2 separate regions of the Homo sapiens genome follow, and region 1 is linked to region 2. Evidence: fine-mapped expression QTL. A gene starts in region 2. The other region holds a variant in brackets. All regions are shown on one strand. Distances are from middle to middle. Region 1 overlaps PAM (peptidylglycine alpha-amidating monooxygenase). Region 2 holds the start of PAM (peptidylglycine alpha-amidating monooxygenase).

Evidence for each region. PIP is the estimated chance that this variant, and not a neighbour inherited with it, causes the effect.
Region 1: its variant is fine-mapped to the expression of PAM in whole blood (INTERVAL, PIP above 0.99).

The regions. Positions count from the first base shown.
Region 1 is chr5:102,777,893-102,786,233 of GRCh38, forward strand. The region is part of intron 1 of PAM (peptidylglycine alpha-amidating monooxygenase); the gene reads left to right. Among named protein-coding and RNA genes, the nearest start is that of PAM, 27 kb to the left of the region's middle. The variant T/C (reference allele first, on the strand shown) is at 5,037.
Region 2 is chr5:102,752,043-102,760,383 of GRCh38, forward strand. It overlaps PAM (peptidylglycine alpha-amidating monooxygenase), which reads left to right and starts at 3,263. Exons shown (of 26, transcript NM_001177306.2): 1 at 3,263-3,306. RefSeq lists enhancers at 2,292-2,817, 3,825-4,325, 3,897-3,986 and a silencer at 2,957-3,506.

The DNA of each region.
Region 1 (8,341 bases), 26 kb after region 2:
CATGGGGTGGTTCTATGTATTTTTCTTCTGTGATGCTGTAAATGAAAGGTCACCTGCCAAATTTCGGTTTGCCCTTGAGAGACCTGCGATCATTCCTTCTGCAGGCGGAATTGTGGAAAACACCTGAATGGCATTGTGCCGTCTTGGGGTTAGCCTGCTAGAGATCAAGTAAGCACCTCTTGGACCCCTGTTAGACAGAAAAAAAATTAAAGGAGAAAGCCTGCACCATAGAGAATTAAAAAGGAGGCGGGTGAGTTGCCTTTCTCCTCTCACCTCCCCACATGTATTTTTTTGAAGAGTTGATTTGTGTTCCCCTGTAATACTTGCATTTGCACTTCTGCATGGTCCTTGATTTTGCCCTATACTTGTATTTATATGTTTATATTCGTTCTATCTTCCCCATAAGATGGTAACATTGTCAAAGGCAAACAGTTTGTCTTTACTTTAAAATTGCCCAGAGCATTCTATATAGTATTTTAGACAAGGAGCATTCAATTAATGTTTACCTGACAAGTAAACAAGAGGAAAAATTAAGGTTTCAGGAAGGAGACTGTAACATTACCAAAAATCATATTAAGGATTCAGAATAATCAAAACTGGCATTTGGTCTCCCTGGCATTTAGAATGAAATAAAAACTAGACCCCATATGATGGATAAAATGAATCATGGGACTGCTCAAGTAGATTATTATTATTGTTTTCCTTCCAAAGCCTGGTCTGTGGCATTTTGTTCCAGAGGAAACTTGAGAGCTGTGGTGATTAAATCTTACCAAATTAGAAACCTCTGAAATGAGTCATTTTTATTTTCATTCACTTCATTTTTACATGGAAGATTGCATAGACAAGCAACCAAATGAACGAAGCTTAGTTTTCTGGTGGGTTGGTGATGACAGTTTTCTCAGTTTGTAGTTGTCGTGGTTCCCATGGTAATATTTTATATGTAGATGCTATACAGGTCAGGTTTACCCGTTTGTGTTTTTGGAGGGAATACTTTGTGTGCATTTGAATCAGGCAGTCCTTAATTCTCAGAGATCTACTAATAGTATGAATATAAGATCAGAATAGAATAGAATTATCTGTTGTGGAAAACTCCTTGGATTTGCCGTCAGAAAACCTGATGGGCTTCTCTCTGTGCCTCTAACTTGTCTTCTGCAAAGTGAAGGAATTGAGTGAGGTACTTTATAATACAAAGATTCTCAACCCTATTGGATCCAGTGTCTCCTTTTTCATAGCATATGTTTTGCAGTGCCCTCTTTATTACCAAGAAATGAAATTTATGTGTAATATAACCTGCCTAAGTGTGTAATTCAAAAATATGCATATATATGTGTGTGTATATATATGTGTATATATATATATGTATATATATAATTCCTAACTTTAATATAAAAGAGCAATACAGGAATAAGTAATTTATAATAAGATAATGTGTATTTCATTCAATATGTAAATGTTTAGTTATGATTACACCATAAGACCTAATGAAGTGTTCAAAAGCTTGATCCTATATGTAGAATAACAGTATGTGTGACAGCTACAAATGCAGATTGATGTCTTTGTTATATTGACCACTCAGATAAAGTATTCCCCCCCTTATCTGTGGTTTCATTTACTGTGATGGTTAATACGTGTGTCAACCTGATTGAACTGAAGGATGCAAAGTATTGTTCCTGTGAGGGTGTTGCCAAAGGAGATTAACATTTGAGTCAGTGGGCTGGGGAAGGCAGACCCACCCTTAATCTGGTGGGCACAATCTAATCAGCGGCCAGTGAATATAAAGCAGGCAGAAAAATGTGAAGAGGTGAGACTGGCCTAACCTCCCAGCCTACATTTTTCTCCCATGCTGGATGCTGGATGTTTCCTGCCCTCAAACATCAGACTCCAAGTTCTTCAGTTTTGAGACTTGGACTGGCTCTCAATGCTCCTCGCCTGCAGACGGCCTATTGTGGGACCTTGTGATCATGTAAGTTAATACTTAATAAACTCCCATATACATATATATATATATATATATATATATATATATACACACATATATATATGTATATATCTCCTAATAGTTCTGACCCTCCAGGGAATCCTAATATAGTTACCCTTGGTCAACTATGGTCCAAAAATTTGGAGAGTTCCAGAAACAAATAATTTATAAGTTTTTAATTGTACACCATTCTGAATAGCATGATGAAAACGTGTGCCCCCTGCTCCATCCAACCCAGGATGTGAATTATTTCTTTGTCCACTGTATCCACATTACATATGCTACCCACCTCACCTGTTAGCCATCTGGGTTATCAAATTTTAAAAGAACATAGCATATATAGGATTCAGCACTATCCACAGTTTTAAGCATTTACTGGGAGTGTTGGAAGATATGCCCCGAGGATCAGGGAAGACTACTGTACCACCATTGGCATTGTTGTTGGTGATGTGATTTTTCCAAAATGATGAGCAATTCTTGGCAAAATTTCAAATAAAACTAAATATTGTCTTTCTTGATTCATGTAGTAACTTCATTTCTAAACATAAGGGGTTTTAAACCATGTAAAAAATACTTGTGTTTTTATGTAAAATGGATTTGGGTCGTAAGCTTAGCTCATCATAAAGACATTTATTACCTATGTGATTTGTAGGACATTTGAGAGTTAAGTAGGATGTGGTGCCGTACTTCATTAAAAAAAGGTCGTGCACATTGCATGGTGTACCTCCCGACTGAACTCCTGCCTACTCTTGCTGGCAGCTCTCCCCACACCAGCCCTGACAACCAGATTTCTGAATCTCACACTAGGGGGCAGTACTGCATCCCATGAAAAATCATTGCTCTAAGGCAGGTTTCTTAACCTCAGCACCTTTTTCTTTCTTTCTCTTTCTTTCTTTCTTTCTTTCTTTCTTTCTTTCTTTCTTTCTTTCTTTCTTTCTTTCTTTCTTTCTTTCTTTCTTTCTTTCTCTGTCTTTCTCTCTCTCTCTCTCTTTCTTTCTTTCTCCTTTCATATTTTGGGTCAGGTAATTCTTTGTTGTGGGGGCTGTCCTGTGCATTGGAGGCTGTTTAGCAGCATCTCTGGCTTCTACCCCCTGGATGTCAGTGTACTCCTCAAGTTGTGATAACCAAAAATGACTCCAGATGTTGCCAAATGTCTCCTGGAGGGTAAAGTTGCCCCAGGTTTAAAAGCACTACTCTGAGATCTCTATCAGCTCCAAAAATCTGTCATGAGAATGATACAGTATTGATTAATATGCAAACATTGCATACAATACTTGTAGATATTGCTAACATTTTTGGGCCAGGTGAAGCCAGTAAGAAAAGCTTTTAATAATTACTCATTTTTTTGGGTCATTTAACACTGGGATTATATTATTGCCTGGCTTTAGAAGGGTTGAAATTATGTACAGTATAGGGTGATAAATTTTGTAGTATGAGAGCATAGGAGAACTAGAATTTCAAGAAAGACTATTCCAAGAAGGTCCTTTGGCAAGTAAGAGTTCATTGAATTCCTTTCTGACAAGTTTGACATTCATGTTAAAGGTTACAAAATCAGAATTTTAGTTTTGTAAGAAGTAATAGAAATTCAGTGGGTACCTTCTCATTTTACAAGTGAGTAAAAACCTAAATGCTAAAGTGCAGTTCACAGTTTAGTTGTGAATCAGGACTTTAATGCATGGCTTTGGTGTCCCCTGTGCTGTTCCTTTTACCACATTGCAGTGCTGCTCAGCCAGGCTATATTTATAAAATATTTTTAGCTTTCTGCAAGCTCTAAGTCTTGATAGGAAATAAAAGACAAAATAACATTTTTCTTTAAAACCTTGATCTTTAGAATGCATGCCAGGAAAAATAAGTGAGAAGGTCAGTTATTATATACAGGGACTTGCATTCATAGATTAAGCCCAGAAATATTTTTAATACTAATGTAATAACAACAATTTACATGGTGCTTCTTGTGGATTAGCCGTGCTCTTCTAAGAACTACACGTTTTTAATGCTTATAACAACCCTATGAAAACAGATACTGTTATAATCATCTCCCTTATGTAAATGAGGCATCAGGAACTTAAAAAAGCTTGCCCAAGGTCGTAAGGGTAAGTGGCTGGTCTGCGATCTGAAAACAGCCAGTCTGCAGTCCACATCCGTGTTCTTGTCCACTACTTACTCCAGCCTTAAACTTTGAACTGAATAAGGATGGATTGGTTTTGTATCCTTGCTCATGAAATGGATATTCCTAGGAGCTCAACATTTGGAGAATTTCAAACCTGAACACTTTAGAACACATTATGTTTTCTTCAAAGAGTAAATCATACCTCACACTTCTCCAACATTTACACCAAAGGTGAATTTGCTCTTTATAGGATATAAGAGCTTCTTTCATCTTGTCCATATCTGAAGCACTTAAAGCAGAACTCTGGTATGAAGTTCATAGCCGGAACGAATCCAGATCTAAATTGAAAGGATTATACAAAGTCATCTTCCTTGTTTGTTTCACCCTTTGTTTTCCCCCCAGAGGAAGGAGAGAAGATTTTGAAATCCTTTATTGCAAAATGAGTTTGAAATAGATACAAATAATAAATATGATTGACAGCTATAGAGGAGAAGGAAAAAACTTGGCTCTTGTTTTAGAAAGATACTTGAAAGGAAAACATCTATGTTTATTGAGAAGTGAGAAGTACATGCAAATCTTTCAAACATAATATTTGAAAGTGAAAATCACGTCATAGGATTTAGAGATATTCCCAAAGTCAATATTTGGTTCTTAAGTTCCAGGTAGTGGAAAAGTCAGAATCAGTTAAGTACCCAGAGCACTTGCTCCCTTCCTTTCTCCATTTCTCTCTCTCTCTCTCTCTCTCTGTGTGTGTGTGTGTGTGTGTGTGTGTGTGTGTGTAATTTTATTTATTACTGGTGAAACTGGTACAGGCAACATGTTGGCTTTTTTGTCAATCAGTTTTTTTTTTTGAGAAATTTTGCTTTTGTGAAAAATCTGCCTTTTCAAAGTTTTCTTTCCTTCTATTATACTCCCCATATTTTTGGTGTATCTGAGATGCTAATGGCC[T/C]TTCATTTTCAAGTTTTTATTTCCCAGTTGGCAGTACCACTTTTACACTTTGAAGATGGAAACTTGGCAGGAAAATTGTATGTCAGGGTGTATTTCTGTGTGGGGTTGCAAGGGCAGGAAAGAAAAAAAACTCAAATAAGAGGTATTTTCATTGAGTATGATCTTAGCTGGTGGCATATATAATTACCCAGTTATTTCTCTCATGAAATGAATGTTTATATTTGTTGTCATGACCAGGATCAGCTACACAGTTTGTGGGGCCCAGTTCAAAATGAAAATGTGGGTGTATTACCAGATTTAGCAAAAAAAAAAAAAAAATAGAGATGCCCAGTTAAATTTGAATTTCAAATAAACAATAAATAATTTTGATTATGTCCAGAATATCCTGGGACAAATATGATTCAGTTTTCTATCACCATAAATTAGTTTAAATGACCATTGCTTAGATCTGTCTTCAATTTCAGTGAAAGCAAAGGTTAAAACTCATCTGAGTTGCAATAGAAGGTGTTGCCTAGAATCATTGATTTTTTCAATACCAACACCAGTATTTGGAATCATCCCTTTATTTGGTCCCCACTGAAGTTTTCCCACCGTAAGACAAGGTTCATAGTAAAACTAAGCCTGAAGGCCTGGGTGGGAGAAAATAATTTGCAGATTCCAAATTCAGTCTCAGTACAATTTTAGGAACGAATATATATGAAGACCAAAGATCTAGAAATTAATTCTCTTTAAACTACCTCTGTGCCAGTTTGCATACTGGAATGTCTTTGAGTATCCCTTGGGATGTGCATGCAGCAGTATGAGGGCCACTTAACTAGAATGGAAAAGGGGAAGATGAATAGAACCCAGCGCCTGCCGTCAGGGAGCATACCAGCTGGAGGGTGACAGCCTCAGGAAGACCTAATTGTAGAACACTTGAATGGTTTCCCTCTCCTCTTGGATCAAGTTCAAAATTCTTCATGATCTACCCCCATCTTTTTTTTTTTGAGGTGGAGTCTCGCTCTGTCACCCAGGCTGGAGTGCAGTGGCGCAATCTCGGCTCACTGCAAGCTCCGCCTCCAGGGTTCACGCCATTCTGCCTCAGCCTCCCAAGTAGCTGGGACTAAAGGCGCCCGCCACCACGCCCAGCTAATATTTTGCATTTTTAGTAGAGATGGGGTTTCACCGTGTTAGCCAGTATGTTCTCGATCTCCTGACCTTGTGATCCGCCCGCCTCAGACTCCCAAAGTGCTGGGATTACAGGCGTGAGCCACCGCGCCCGGCTGATCTACCCCCATCTTTCTCTCTGTTCTTACCTGGTGCTCCTCTTCTCCCTGTGTAACCTCTAAGCTCCAATCATACCAGCCTTTCTGTCCCTAGCACACCTAAGCTGCTCCTGCCTATGTGCTATTGGGTCAAGCTGTTTTGGTGGGCTAGAATGCGCTTTTCAGTTTCCCCCCTTGCACCCACACACCTTAGATTTCAGGTTTCCTTGGCACCGTAAGCTTGGAAAAATTTAGGTATCACTGTTGTAAGCTCTCATATGACCCTGTCCTCCTCCTTGTACAGTACTTATTACAAAAGTCACTAACGTTTGGTATTCATTACCTTAAACTCTGATTACTTTTGTGCTGTTCACTTTCTGAGGACAGGTACCATCTCTGTCTTATCTAACCAGATATTCCCAGCAGAGAATGTAGCCTCTTCCATATTAAGGGTGAGTCATACATATATGTAGAATTGAATTAAAAATATACTCAACGTATTTGTTGAATTGAATTGATGTTAACATTTATGTGAAACATGACTTTGTGTCAGTCACTGGCGGGCATTTACTATATATTATCTCATTTAATTCACACAAAATCATTTGGGAATACATGCTTTTAGATAGGCAAACTTTATTATTGTTGTTATTCGTTTACTAGGAATTTTTAGGCAAAGCAAGTGCATAAACACCAGGTGAGTGGTCTTAAATGCCATGTTAAGGATTTGGAACTTTTTACTAAACACCAGTGATTCTCCATACTTTAGGAAATCAGAATCACCTGGAGGATTAAAAACAACAAAAAAGCAATGCCCGCATATAATTGGTTTAGGATTCAGCAAGTCATTTTATAAAACTTCCCCAAATAGACTTTTTTGTTGTTGTTCTTTGTTTTTTTATACTTTAAGTTCTGGGATTCATGTGCAGAACATGCAGGTTTGTTACATAGGTATCCCAAGTAGTTTTAATGCACAGCACTGATTGGGACACTAAAAAGTAGTGATGCTAGCCCAGCAGCATTAACACCACCTGTGAACTAGTAAGAAATGCAGATATCTGGGCCCCTTCCCAGTTTCACTTAATAAGAAAAGGGAGGGGGGAGTCCCCAGCAATCTGTATCTTAGCAAGCCTTTCAAATGAATCTCATGCCCTTTAAAGTTTGAGAACCTCTGTTATAAACAATTGGAAACTTAAAAAGCTTTGTACTTTTGTGTTTTACAAAAGAACTTTGGTAGATACGTGGGAGACTGAATAAATAAGGGACAAACCAGAGGGTAAGGCAACCTGTTAGAGCTGTTACCTTTAGAAGTATCATGTGGAGGTAAGAAGATGGCAATAAGAACTAGAGTGGTGGTTATAGGAAGGAAGGAAGGTGGTGGGATCAGGAGATGTTTCAAAAACAGAAATGGTGAAATATGGTGACTGATTGGCTTGAAGAGGTTGAGGGAGAGAGTGAGGTCAAAGAAAATATAATTTCTTTCTGAGTTAGTTAAGTGACATCATGAAACAAGGCAGAAATGTGTTTAGAAAGTGTAAGTTGGGGGAAACCATAAAAGTATTGAATATAAGGTGTCTTCAAGCATCTAGTAAGAGATGTTTTTGTCTCGTTGGAAATTTGGTTTCTGGAACTTTGGAAACAAATGGGGAGTAAGGAGTGGTGTTGGAAGTTCTCACCATTGTATTTAACTTTTTAAAAATCATTCATTCAAGTGGTTATATATGTACTAAATTATTTTTTTAACATGTTCGTTTTATTTCAAATTGAGCCAAAGATGTTGAACTTTACACAAACTATAATCTCTTACATTGGATCATTTATATGAAGTTATTTTTAATAATTATTAGAATTTATGGAATATGTTAGCAGAATTATGGTAAAGCAAAGTTTGCATTTTGTAAATTTACTGTTCCATTCTTGGGTCAAGTGTACAGTGAACACATTCATTTTCAGAGAAAGAACTGAGAGGACACAAGCAAGAATACATTTCACATTTCAGCTGTTAAAGGAGGCAATTTTGTGTCATGTAAGCTCACAGATCCTGGAGCCAGACTGAGCTCT
Region 2 (8,341 bases):
CCTCAGCTTGCAGGGAGGTGTGGAGGGAGAGGCGAGGGCGGGAACCAGGGCTGAGCAGGGCGCTTGCAGGCCAGCTAGAGTTCCGGGTGGGCGTGGGCTTGGCGGGCCCACACTCGGAGTGGCCGGCCGGCCTCGCCCGCCAGGGCAGTGAGGGGCTTAGCACCCGGGCCAGCAGCTGCGGAGGGTGCGCCTGGTCCCCCAGCAGTGCTGGCCCACTGGCACTGCACTCGATTTCTCGCTGGGCCTTAGCTACCTCCCTGCGGGGCAGGGCTCGGGACCTGCAGCCCGCCATGCCTGAGCCTCCCCCAAGGCTGTGGGCTCCTGCGCTACCGAACCTCCCCAAGCCTCCTAGACTAGCGCTGCCCCCTGCTCCATCAGCACTCTGTGTCTAGCTCAGGGTTTGTGGATGCACCAATCAGCACTCTGTATCTAGCTAATCTGGTGGGGACCTGGAGAATCTTTATGTCTAGCTAAGGGATTGTGAATACACCAATCAGCACTCTGTGTCTAGCTCAAGGTTTGTAAATGCATCAATCAGCACCCTGTGTCTAGCTCAAGGTTTGTAAATCCACCAATCAGTACTCTGTATCTAGCTGATCTGGTGGGGACTTGGAGAACCTTTATGTCTAGCTAAGAGATTGTGAATACACTAATCAGCACTCTGTATCTAGCTAATCTAGTGGGACTTGGAGAACTTTTGTGTCTAACTCAGGGATTGTAAACGCACCAATCAGCACCCTGTCAAAACGGACCAATCAGCTCTCTGTAAAACAGACCAATCAGCTCTCTGTAAAATGGACCAATCAGCAGGATGTGCGTGGGGCCAGATAAGGGACTAAAAGCAGGCTGCCCCAGTAGCAACTCGCTGGGGTCCCTTTCTACACTGGAGAAGCTTTGCTCTTTTGCTCTTTGCAATAAATCTTGCTGCTGCTCACTTTTTGGGTCCACACTGCCTTTATGAGCTGTAACACTCACCACGAAGGTCTGCAGCTTCACTCCTGAGCCAGTGAGACCACGAACCCACCAGAAGGAAGAAACTCCAAACACATCCAAACATCAGAAGGAACAAACTCCAGACATGCTGCCTTTAAGAACTGTAACACTCACAGAGAGGGTCCGCGGCTTCATTCTTGAAGTCAGTGAGACCAAGAACTCACCAATTCCAGACACACCAGGACCTTGAGGGTGTGAGAGGTTACCGTCAGGTTACATTTAGAAGTGTTGTCCCAACTACTCTCCCACATTTAAGGCAAAAATATAGTCACCACTGAACAAGAAAATCATCTTGGCACAAAAATGTACTGAATTGAAGAAAGAAAACAAAGAGAAACAAAACACCATAGCCTAGAACTCCTGCCCCTCCACATTTTCTTCTCTCTCTCACACCACAAACTTTCTCTCTGTGACACACACACACACACACACACAGAGGAGAGACGTATTTGAGGGAGGGTCTCAAGTGCTTGCTTTCCTTAACAACCCAGACCAGGAGGAAGAGATAAAGTGACTTAGGAGATGCCTAAAGATGAAGAACAGCCCGGGATCCGTAAACAGACTCAGCTCGGTGTCTTCTCGCACCTTCTCAGAATCAAGTTTCCAAAATGAGGGTCATCCGCCTGCCTTGGAATTTGGGTTGGGAAGTGGATGGAGTTCCTGGACACATGCTCTAGGCCCTGACCAGTCTGGCCACTGCTCACTAGGAATTCTGTTGGGAGGGTGTACAACAGATTTTCCAACTGGTCTACAGCGAGCATCGGTAGTTTCCCTATGGAGAAAATGATTTTCTTTCTGGGAATCCCCCTATAGCCTGAAGGCTTTGCCTCATTTCCCATAGCTCCTCTCCGGTGTACCCCTTCGGTTCGCACTTTCCTACCTTCTTCCCAGTCCACTGGCTTCTCCTTCTTTATCTTCCTCAGTGTCCCTTCTCACAACCTCCCTGCTACCACACCAGATTCTGAAGGGGAGGAGTTGTCTGGAAAGACCAGAGCTGGGTGCTGGGGATCTGGAGCAGCTCGGGACCCGCGCTGCAGGGAGCTGGGATGGGAGAGGTGAGGGAGAGGAGGATGGGACTCTGGGAGAAAGAGAGGGGGCTGGGCTGGCGCTGGGGATGGAAGAGGCGAGGTGAACGCACTCAAGCGGTTACCTGCAGACAGGGAGAGACAGTGGCAAATACCTGCCTTCAATTAAACGCATATCAATTTGTGTGTGGGGTCAGTACTGCACATCATCAAGCCTCTTGGGTATAAAACCTTCCTACTGGAACTCTCCAGCCCCGCCCCCACCACCCCACGCGCGGCTCCCTGCTTTCTCTTGCTTTGGGGTGAGGCTGGGGATGTGGGTGGCTCCAGAGTTCCCTGCCCGCAGTTTAGGGGCGAAGTGATCGGTGTGTGCGCGCTGGGCACTCTGCGGGTTAAAAAGGTTTAGCAGAAAGGGATGCAGATGGAGGCGGGAAGCCAGGCTAAGAAAGGGATACCGACCTCCCTCCTCGGGTCGGAGGTGTGAACTGGGAAGCACTGCGCAGACCTGAGCGAGGTGGCCTGAATCCAGGGGCCGGGCAAGGGGGTGGTGTGAATAGAAATAGCACATTTCCCAGGCTTTCAGCCCCGGTACTCTGCCATCCTTCCAGTTCCATGCACTCAGCCAGGTCTCCAGGCTGGAGCAAGGGCTGGGGGTCAATGGGTCCTTCCTTCTCTCGGGAAACGTTCTTCTGGCGCGAAGCTGGGCGGAGGGAGAGTCGGACATTTTCCTCTGCTTCTCTCAGGGCAGCTGGCGTGGCCACCTCGCAAGGCTGCTTCTAGGGACACGAGACTCGGGAGGGTCAGAGACTTTCAGGCCGGGCCTTCACTCCCTTCCCCGGGGCACTTGGGCAAGAGTTCCAGCTCTTGGCTACCTCTGGCCCGCGCGTGAGTTCAGACACCCAGCACACGCGACCCCCGCAGGGAAACCCCGGGAAGCTGCGCGCAATCGCTGGGGACTCGCCAGGGCTCCACTTCCCAAGCTCCGCGCCCCCTGCGCCCAAAGAGGCAGGGCGGAGCAGAGGCCGCCGGCGTGGAGGAGGCGAGCGCGGGGCTGGCCCGGGAGCCGCCCCCGGGGAGGGACTGAGACCTGCCCCAGGAGTCGAGGGCGAGCGGCGGACCCGGCTGGGCCCGGCGCACGCCGAGGAGAGGGAGCCCCCGCCACCGCCGCTGCCTCCGCGTGCTCAGCCTGTCCCCGCCCAGGGAGCCGGAGCCTCCAACTAACTCCGCCCGCCGCTCCGCCGCCCGCAGGCTCCGGCTTCCGTCCCGGACAGAGCCCGTGGTCGCGCAGGTTGGTGTTGTTGCCGCTGCTGCCGCCACTGCGAGGCGGTCAGGGCAAGGGTGAGGGTGGGGGCGCGGAAGGGGGCCTGGGCTCGGGATCCTGCTGCCACCAATTCCTGGTGCCCCAGGAGGTTGTTGCTTTTTCTCCCGGGCTGCCCGGGTCGGGGGTGGGGGGATGGGGCGGGGATCCAGCGATGCGGCCAGGGAGGATTTTGGGGACTGAGCTATTCTCGCATTTCCCAAACCTCTCTCACGACCCTTCATCACCATTATTAAGTCCCTGGCCAGTTTGTGAGGGGTCGTCCTCCCCTCCGGTCCTTCTCACCTCCGCACTTCTCCTTGTGCCCTCTCCCTAGGGGGTACAATTTGTTCATTCGCCTTTTCTGCCCCCAACTTGGAGAACTCTCCGTGACGCCTAGAAAGCCTCCTCGGTTCTCCGCCCGCCCTTCAGTCTAGTTTGGGGAAGTAGAGGCCGCCGCGGAGTAGCAACCTGGGGTGTGGAGTGGGGGCGAGTGCCGGGAAGCAGTGGAAATTCCTTCCCCTCTTTCTTTCCCGTCCTTGCCCAGCTTTGCTCTCTTCCTGCCGTTTTGCCAGCCTCCGAATGTAATACGCGGGCGAAGGGCGATCTCCAAGGCAGAATGGGAAGTATCCACCACTTGGGATACTAGTTAAGTCTAGGTTCAGTCACCTTCCCAGCTCTGTGGCCTTGGGACCCGCCCCATCGGAACCTGTATGTTGTCATCTGCAAAATATGCGTCAGCTCTGCCTGCCGCTGAGGGTAGTTGTGGGGCTCCCTTGGGATGACTTAGGGTATTACGTGATTTTGAGCACGGTCTCTTGTCTCGTGCAGCTGCCTGATGGCAGGTCCTGTGTTCTGATCGTCTGAGTTCAGGTCCTTTGGCTGAGATGTGATTATCTCTCTGGGTGATTTGGTCAGTAGCTTTGCGGGGCTAAAAGGCATGTGTTCCTGGAGCTGGTCATTGGGGTTCAGAGTTGAAATCGTGTCGTCCCCACCAATCCCTGTGTACAAAGCTATGGACCTTACATCCTGTGCCTTTGTGGTCATAGAAATTCAAGTAGAAGGAAGATCTTATTGGACTTTGTTTGCTTCAGATGTTTTACATTCTTTACAATCGCTTTTCTCTTCTAGGTGCAAACTTAAATTTACTGCTAATTCTAATAATCCAGGAAGGATACTTTCATTTTAGTAAAATCAGACATTTAGCTCAAATAACATGTGACATATTGTTTGTAAATTTTCAGTTTATAATCACAGGCACAAAAAAGCATAGTTCATGCCATTCTAGTTACTTTATAAAGCAAGTAAATGGCCTAAAAAATCAGCTTTACAGGAAGTCAGGGCTGCAGTGAACTGTGTTTATACCACTGCACTCCAGCCTCGGTGACAGAGCAAGACCCTGTCTCAAAAATAAATAATCAGCTTTAGAATTGATATTAAATGGTAAGCCCTGTCGTTCCTGCATTCCTGACTTAATAGGCATTTTCATTCCGCGATGCACTCTGCTATATGCTTTAAAGATATAAAGATATAGAGTATGTTCCTTGTCCTGAAGGGCCTTCCAAGGTAACTTAAAGACTATGTAGTTTTATTTCATATTTTTATATGAACAGTCTTCTAATGACTATACATGGCAAGTAGAATGAGGTCAAGAATGCATTATCAAAGGCCCTTTAAGATCATCATTTGGCCGGCTGCGGTGGCTCACGCCTGTAATCCCAGCACTTTGGGAGGCCGAGGCGGGCAAATCACAAGGTCAGAAGTTCCGTACCAGCCTGGCCGACATGGTGAAATCCCATCTCTACTAAAAATACAAAAAATTACTTGGGCATAGTGGCAGGCACCTGTAATCCCAGCTACTTGGGAGACTGAGGCAGGAGAATCGCTTGAACCTGGGAGGTGGAGGTTTCAGTGAGCTGAGATCACTCCACACACTCCAGCCCTGGTGACAGAGTGAGACTCTCTCAAAAAAAGATAAAACTAAATAAATAAATAGATAAAAAATCATTTGGTGAGTTTGCATAATTGGAAGAAATAACAAGTTTGTTAAGACATTGCTTTCTAAAATAAAATGCCATGTGCTCCTACTTCATCAAGGTGCACTTGGAAATAAAATGAATTCTGTGTTTTTAGAATGAAAGCTTAGGAAAACATTCTACACATGTATGATGTGCTAATCAAATGTTAAAAGCTATAGAAATTTTAATTCTAACTTCCTTCAACTGTATGTTGTGGTTCCCACATACAGTTTTTTTCTCAACTCCTTGAGGAAGGAAATTATAATGCCTAGAAAAAATATACAGAGATTTAATGTAAGATTTTTAATAAGCTGGACCTTAAGGCCTGGTGGGTCCTGAAGTGACTCTGGAAATTTGACTTTAAAAGTTACGAGACTTGGTGAGACTGAGTGTGGTGGCTCATGCCTGTAATCCCAACACTTTGAGAGGCTGAGGCGGGAGTATTGCTTGAGTTCAGGAGTTTGAAACCAGCAACATAGTGAGACCTTCTCTCTACAAAAAATATTAAAAGAAAAAAAAAGCCAGGTGTGGTGGTGCACGCCGGTAGTCCCAGCTACTCAAGAGGCTGAGGAGGGAGGATCTCTTGAAACTGGGAGGTTGAGGCTATAGTGAGCTGTGATCATGCCACCACACTCCAACTTGGGCCACAGAGAGAGGCCCTGTCTCAAAAAAAAAAAAAAAAAAGACTTAGAATTTTGTTTTTTTTTTTTTTTTTTTTTTTTTTTTTTTTTTTCTTGGGGCAAAGAATGAGCAAGAATTCCACCTGGAAAAGATTGACCAGGGATCTTGACTTTCTGTCTAGGTTGTATTTTGTGTGACTCAGTGACATCTCTGATTCTTTTCCTCCTCCTAGGAAGAATTTATCTATCTGCTATGTGCAGAATTTATTAGGCTTTACATACTGGGCTTTGAGGCTTTGATTGGACTCTCACATTAAGGCATGGCAGGCTGAGGGGCAGCCTGAGGGACATAATGTTAACTTTACACTTGGCTTTATTGTTCCATACCTTTGTTTTTCTATTTGTGAAATGAGATTAAAGATCCTTCTTACTGCCCTGGAAGCCGTGTCATCTGGTATAATAGCCATAAATGCTTCTTGTGTGTATAAGAACTTTCTTTACCATTTGAATGCGAAAGCTAATTATTAAAACCACATACAAATAGCTCAAAAGATGGGCTGTGAATAAAGCTGCTGTTGGTGTCATGTGCTCTCAGGTATCCTGGCAGAAATTTCAGTCATCATGTATCCCTACAATTTACTGTGTTGTGGAGAATAAGGCCTTCATTTTATCTGGGGTTGAATGTTTACCTCTCCAAAATGGGAATAATGAAATACTAACCTGAAAGGACTGTTGTCAGCATTAAATGAGCTAATCCATGTGTGGTTCTTAGCACATTGCCAGTATACAGCTATTGCTCTATGACTCAAGTAGTTATTTTAGTTTCTCCAGGGTAGGGGGAGGGGGGAAGGAATGGAATTTCAGTGGTCCACATTTTAAAAATGAATACATATATAAAAATATAAATACACTCTTCCCCAATATTTTGAAATAGCCATTCCTCAGCTAACTTTTTTCATTCATTTATGCAACAAGTGTTTATTCAGCCCACACTAAACGTTTGGCTTTTTCCTAGGCACTGACATACAATGGTATACAAGACAGTTATAGTCACTTTCTTATGACTGAAAGGTCTAGAGAGGGATGCAGATCTGTAAACAGAGAATTATAAATTTATAAAGAAAATTTTTAAAAAATTATAATGCCATATGATTCATGCCATGATAAGGGTAGTGAAGAGAACCTCAGAAGATAGGATAGCAGGGTCCTGGGTAGGTGAATGTCACACAGTGCATCATCTCATCCTAATTGGGTTGGTGGTGGTGAAGGAAAACTTCCTAGCAGCATGAATACATGAAGACCTGAAGCATGAGTGGTAGTTAGCAGCTGAAGAGGTGGGAAGATTGAAAGAGACCAAAGGGAGCATGATGCCTTAGAATGGAAGTCAGGCAGAAAATGTTAAACAATACATAGGTAAGAGCAGGAGGGAGAGGCGTGGCAATCTGGAGAATCCAAGCTGTCTAAAGGGAAAAGTAGATACTCATTTCAGCCAAGTATTGTCAGGTTGGGATGCAGGCCAAGTGTTGCCAGATGCCTTGATTTCTAAAGAGGAGCTTAAAATTCATATTTTATAAATATGAAATCTCCCAAATATGAACTAACCCAAATGTTTTAAAAACTATTCTGTGGGCCAAACCAGACAAATCTGTAGTTGGAATTCAACCTAGGGCCACCACTTTATGACCTCTACATGTAAGAAACTGAGAGGAGTTTAATGTGGCTAAAGGCATAAACCTTAAACGGACAAGCAAGGGAAGCACTGGCTTTGTGGAACTTGCTAAGGAGGGGTGGCCTAATTCTAAGGACAGTGGGTGACATTGAAGACTGAAACAAGATGAGATTTGTGTTACAAGATGCAGTCTAGCTACTGTATAGAGAATGAGTGGGAGGAGGCAGTGGTGGAAGAAAGATAACCATTTGGAAGCTTACCGTGGTCATAGGAAGAAATTAAGTGTGGCTAAAAGCAAGGTATTCAAGCAGGTGGGAGATGAGTGGATTTCAGAGATATGTATGATACCCCTATGTTGGGATTCAATTCTCCATTAGTCACTCAGACTTTTGCATGTCTTGTGAGCAAAGGCATTTACTGCTTTCATCCCAGACTCTCTTAAAGACATTTGTATGGTAGATAGTTTTGGAAGATAGAGGTATTCTTTCCCTCTGAAGCAAAGGGCAGGTAGGTTTTACTGTCCAGTTTAAAAGATTCAAGTACCCTAAGCTCAGGGTTCCCCTCTGACAATGCAGATCATCAAGTATCTGCTTCACATCACATGGGGGGAACTGAGTTTCAGGACATTGGCACAACTATGCTGATACTACTGCTACTGATATTTTTGTGAGTAGTATAGTCCTTTGTTTCTCACCCTAGAATTTTCTGTCTTCTTCCAG